2 separate regions of the Homo sapiens genome follow, and region 2 is linked to region 1. Evidence: fine-mapped expression QTL. Tissue or cell type: whole blood. Region 1 holds a variant in brackets; the other region holds the start of a gene. All regions are shown on one strand. Distances are from middle to middle.

Region 1 (2,687 bases):
ATGATGCACACATAAGGCTTTTCTCCAGTATGAATTCTCTGGTGCTCAAGAAGTCTTTTTTTGTGAATGAAGGCCTTCCCACATTCTTTGCACTCATAAGGCCTTTCTCCCGTGTGGATTCTATGGTGATCAAGAAGTGACTGTTTGTATATGAAGGATTTCCCACATTCACTGCACTGATAAGCCCCTTCTCCAGTGTGAACTCTCTGGTGTCGAATGCGGTCATAGGAATGAATAAAAGATTTCCCACATTCCATACACACATAAGGCCTCTCTCCAGTGTGGATTCTCTGCTGATGGCCAACAAATGTTTGTTTGTGGCGGAATGATTTCCCACATACATTGCACACATAAGGCTTTTCTCCATTATGGGTTCTCTGGTGTTCCACAAGTGAGTATTTGGAGCTCAAGGATTTCCCACATTCGATGCACACATAAGACCTTTCTCTAGTGTGAATTCTCTGCTGGTGCCCAACGAGTGTTTGTTTATGGAGGAATGATTTCCCACATATATTGCACACATAAGGCTTTTCTGCATTATGGGTTCTCTGGTGTTCAACAAATAAGTATTTAGAGTTCAAGGATTTCCCATATTCCCTACGCTTATAAGCTTTTTCTCCAGTGTGGACTCTCTGATGCTCAGTAACATGAACTTTCTCATTGAAAACTTGCTCACATTTGTAACGTCTTTGTTGAAAGGTCTCCCTGCTTCTATGTGCATACTCTTGTCTGCTGTGGGTGGTCTGGTGTTGGAGAAGGCCCAGGATGGTTGGAAAATCCTTCTCAACATCTTTGCATGGGAAAAGATTGTCTGACAGAGGAATTTTGCAGCTATTCAGAAGCAAGGCACTGCTCTCCTCCTTTCTGATGTGTTTCTCTCCACTGTCCTGGTTCTGGTGCTGTTGCAGGTTAGAACCAAATGAAAACCATTTCCCACTGGCCACAGACGTATAAGGTTTCTGCCAGGGAAGTGTCCCCTGATGCTCACTGAGGTACAAAATGTCTTTCATGACCAGGATACACATCTCACAAGAATGAGCATTTGGGATGGAAGGACCTAGCTTTGGAGTCCTGGCCTGTGACACTCCTTGCGCAGAAAGAGTCTGCTCAGAAGGGGCCTCCTCAGCCTCTATTCCATGCAAACA[A/T]CCTAAAAGCATAAAAATGCAAGTGAAGTATATGCAGACTTTGGTAGAAGGGAACAGCTCCATTACAAATACCTGTGGAACACAGGGAGGGACGAGTCCATGGTTTTTCTTTGAGATAGGGTCTTGCTCTGTCACCCAGATGGGAGTGCAGTTGCAGTCATATCTCACTGCAGCCTTGACCTTCCAAGCTCCAGTGACACTCCCATCTCAGCCTCCCAAGTAGCTAGGACTACAGGCATATACCACCATACCTGGCTAATTTTTTTTTAGAATTTCTTGTGGAGATACAGGTCTCATTATGTTGTCGAGGCTGGTCTCAAATTCCTTAGCTCAAGTGATCCTCCCACCTCAGCTTCCCCAAGTGCTAGGATTATAGGCACGAGCCATTGCACCCAGGCCATGGGTTTGTTTTCAGGACAAGGGAGCTGGAGTCAGGTCAAGGAAGATAATACTTGCAGTATTAGGCCTCTTAAGGTTACCATGTAGGGGAAGACCCATAACCAGCAAGAGAACAAGGAATGGGGTACTATGGTGGGAAGAGAGGCAGGGGGCATACAACTCCCTTCTCTGTCAATGGTTTTCAATAGGACGTCATCTGATGGAGACAGGGGAGACCTGCATAGAATGTGTGTCACCCCAGGAAAATGCAATTACAACTGGATAGCTGATGTTTGAGAGCTTAAGTAGACAGTCTTTGATTTATAATGGTTGAACTTATGATTTTTCCACTTTATGATGATACGAAAGTGACACATTCAGTAGAAACCATACTTTGAATTTTGAACTTTTCCCAGGCTAGTGATACGCAGTGTGTATACTCTTGTGATGCAGTGGTAGCAAGCTGCAGCTCTCAGTAAGCCATGCAATCACCAGGCTAAACAACTGACACTCTACTGTGTTGCTAAGCTAGGATGTCTAATAAGTTGGGTGTATTAAATGCATTTCTGACTTACGATATTCTCAACTTACAATGGGTTTATCAGGATATAACCCCATCACGAGCTGAGGAACATCTGTATCTGCACAGCTCATAATATTAAATACATTAGGTATAGGCTAATGTTGGAGAACACTGCAGAACAGGAACAGGAGAGATGTGGAGAACAGAGGTAGGGGACAATCACAGTAGAAACGACAAGTAGGCAAATTGTCAAGCAGGCAGAGAAAAGAGAAAAATGAGGTATGGCCATGAGCCCTGGCACCAAAATAGTGGGGAACATAGGACATTTGCCTGGTATGATTTGAGTTCAGCCCTCAAATCATGCCCTCCCACTGCTCCTACTCACAGGTCCCAAACCCTGTTAACCCCCCTTGCTGTGGCTGAAGACTTCACTACGCTTTCAGGAACACAGGCCTCTCCCCTGTCCCCAGCTTAAGTCAGGAGACTATCTGGGTCCTGGAAGGTAGAAGAAATCCTAAGGGAAAAACAGGGAGGTGGGTCAACAACACTGGCCCAGGGTGCGCCAACCCATGACAGACTACAGGAGGGAAATTTATTACAAAAAAACCCTTGGGAGGGGGTCTTGCTGTCATAGTCTAGGG
Region 2 (2,687 bases), 23 kb before region 1:
TCAAGGAAACTTCTTTTGAGCTAGCTACAGCCTTTAACAATTGAGTAAGGTTTACTCCTGAGAACAAAATTTGGAACATGTTTGTTTCTCTCTGCCTTATTGGTTCTTTAAGGACCACTGCAACATGGTCTTGGGAATTATACTTCAAGAAGCCTATAAGGTTAAAGGGTGTTTATACTCACAGTGATATAGGAATAGCACTGGGTGGTTGCAGGAGGATGGAAAAATTCGAACAACAAATAAAAACAAGAACTAGGCAAAGAAACCATAGGATAACAGAAAACCCAAAATAAGAGAAAGAATGGCCAAAATCCCAGTCAGGATGACATGTCCATGACTCTTCTGGGCAAAGCCAAATAAGAGAGAAAGGGGGCAGTAACCAGGTGGGTCCCTGAATTTCCCTCCTTTTCCAGAATACCTAATAATTATTCCACTCTCTAATTAAAGAAACACCCACAAAATAGGAATGCTGTGTGGTCACAGGAGAAGGGGGAAAACATCAAGCTGTTAAAATTAGCTACTCCAACAAGAAGACTGGGCTGATGAGACCTTAACAAACAGGATTGGGGCTAGGCTGTCCCATGACGCTAGATTTGACCCATTTCCTACCCCAGACCTAATTATACACTCATTGCCACATTAAATCACACACCCACCAGTGCCAGGCCAATCCAAGCACGCCCACATTTAGTATAAAAATGGTTGGCACCCCAATTCTAAGAAATTCCCACCTTTTCCTAGAAAAACCTCATGATTATCCCACCCCCTAATTAGAAGAGCCCATAAAATTAGAAACCCAAACTCCATTGTGCATGACCCGCTCTCCCTCGTACGTCCGCATTTCCCTCTTCTCTTGGGAAAAGTACACTCTTCTCAAAAATGTGTACTTTTTCTTCCCAATAAAAGCTTCTTGCCTTTGGCTTCATTTTGACTCATCCCTGCATTCTTTCTCACGATGGTGTCACGAAGCTGGACTCCGGAAGCGGGCGGGGACTCACGGCCCCTGGAGACCTTCCTGAGCCCTGGGCAACACCAGTCCACACAGAGGAGGCAGACGTCCCACAGACGGAACCCCACGAGCATGTCCCGGGAATGGCTCCACGCGGGAAGCGGGGGTCCAGATCCACGCCAGTCCCAGGGACAGTGCCTGGCGTCAGGGTGGAGGAGGACGCAGTAACCAGGCGTAAGATTTTACTGGTACATGGGAATGTCACTGGGTCACTCAGAGGAGGCAAGCGGGGAACCTCGTGGCAGGGCCCCCTTTATCAAACTCGTTTACCTGGGTGCCTGGGCGAGTGCTCACAGCCTGCTTGTAGGGACGTTGAGGCATCCGAATAATAGGAAGTTTTAAAAATTTACAATCCAGTGTGTACACTTGCTCCGCTAAGATCATCTGAGATATACAGAAACATGGTGTGCATAATAAAAAAGGAAAAAGAGCCAAGCCTGGCCTCTTACGGGACAAGACTACATTACCTAGAAGGCAGTGGGCCGGCGCAGGAAAAGGCGTGGCAGGCGACCGCGACACAGGGGCGGGACTTCCGGCCTCGCTGGCGTGGACGTTTGTGGTGGGGCGTGTTGGTCCGCGCTCTCAGAACTGTGCTGGGAAGGATGGTAGGGCGACTGGGGCTCACCTCCGCACCGTTGTAGGACCCGGGGTAGGGTTTTGAGCCCGTGGGAGCTGCCCCACGCGGCCTCGTCCTGCCAACGGTCGGATGGCGGAGACGAAGGACGCAGCGCAGGTGAGCAGACTGGCTCGGCTCCCCGCGGCCACCCGGCCTCAGTGTCCCGGGCCCGACGAGCGGAAGGACGGCGTTTCAGGGTCGTCCTCAGTGCAGTCCCTGCCGTTGCTTCTTAGAGGCCTAGAAGGGGGTCGCGCGGTCCCGGGTCCGGAATGCAGGCCCGCGGTGGCGTGGGGAGCGTCCCCGTTTCTGGGGTGCGCGGCGTTGTGGTATGAAATAGGGCTTTTAGGGTCCCGGAACCCCTCACAGGTGAGAGGAGCGACCGCAGTCCTCCTCGTGGCTCTTCCAACCATGTCCTTTCTCGGGCCTGCGACCTTGAACAAGTCCCGTTACTGTCCTCGTCCTTCATTTTTGCGCGCGCAAAGTAGAAATATTTACTCTTCCCCCCCCCGGGGTTGAGGAAGCTTGAACGGCTCCCTGGGTGATGTGTGTGTGTCCGTCTCAGTGCACAGCACGGTCCGGGGACGTCGCTCAGGATGTTGTTTCCGGAGCTGCTCCCTGGGCCTGTGCTAGGTTTGGAGACTCAACCCCAGCAGGAGTCTGACCCTCTGGCCTCCTTGGCCTCCTGTCTCTACAACACGAAGGGCAGCGGCTGAAAGAGGTGGGAGGAGCGTTTCTGCGGTTGCTGCTATGCCAGGGCAGAAAAGGTGGTAGGGCAGGCTGAGGAATTTGTCTTTCAGTTTAGGGCAAGGGACGCTGGGTTGCAACTAACAGTATATTTTCCTGTTTAAGACATTTAGTTACAGGTGAAAAACGAGTCCATTAAAATGTTCAGTGGCGATGGTATGCAGGATGTAGTGTCCCTTTGGAGATAACACATGAGGCCCAGGGTTACTCTCTAGCAGTCACTCTGATTACTTTCATGATAGCCCAGATTACTGTCAGCTCCTGTCGTAGTTGTTAATTTCTCATCCACCTCTCCCTCCTTTGCTTTATTTCTGACTC

The links. PIP is the estimated chance that this variant, and not a neighbour inherited with it, causes the effect.
Region 2: it holds the start of ZNF550, and the variant in region 1 is fine-mapped to the expression of ZNF550 in whole blood (TOPMed, PIP 0.96).

Annotation. Positions count from the first base shown.
Region 1 is chr19:57,535,664-57,538,350 of GRCh38, reverse strand. It overlaps ZNF549 (zinc finger protein 549), which reads right to left. Exons shown (of 4, transcript NM_001199295.2): 4 at 1-1,147. Among named protein-coding and RNA genes, the nearest start is that of ZNF549, 9.7 kb to the right of the region's middle. The variant A/T (reference allele first, on the strand shown) is at 1,146.
Region 2 is chr19:57,558,711-57,561,397 of GRCh38, reverse strand. ZNF550 (zinc finger protein 550) reads left to right here and starts at 1,535. Exons shown (of 4, transcript NM_001397372.1): 1 at 1,535-1,742. The coding sequence starts at 1,716. It overlaps LOC124904781 (a long non-coding RNA gene), which reads right to left and starts at 1,456. Exons shown (of 2, transcript XR_007067357.1): 1 at 1,280-1,456. RefSeq lists enhancers at 1,174-1,283, 228-1,427, 1,914-1,963, 1,405-2,269, 2,414-2,493.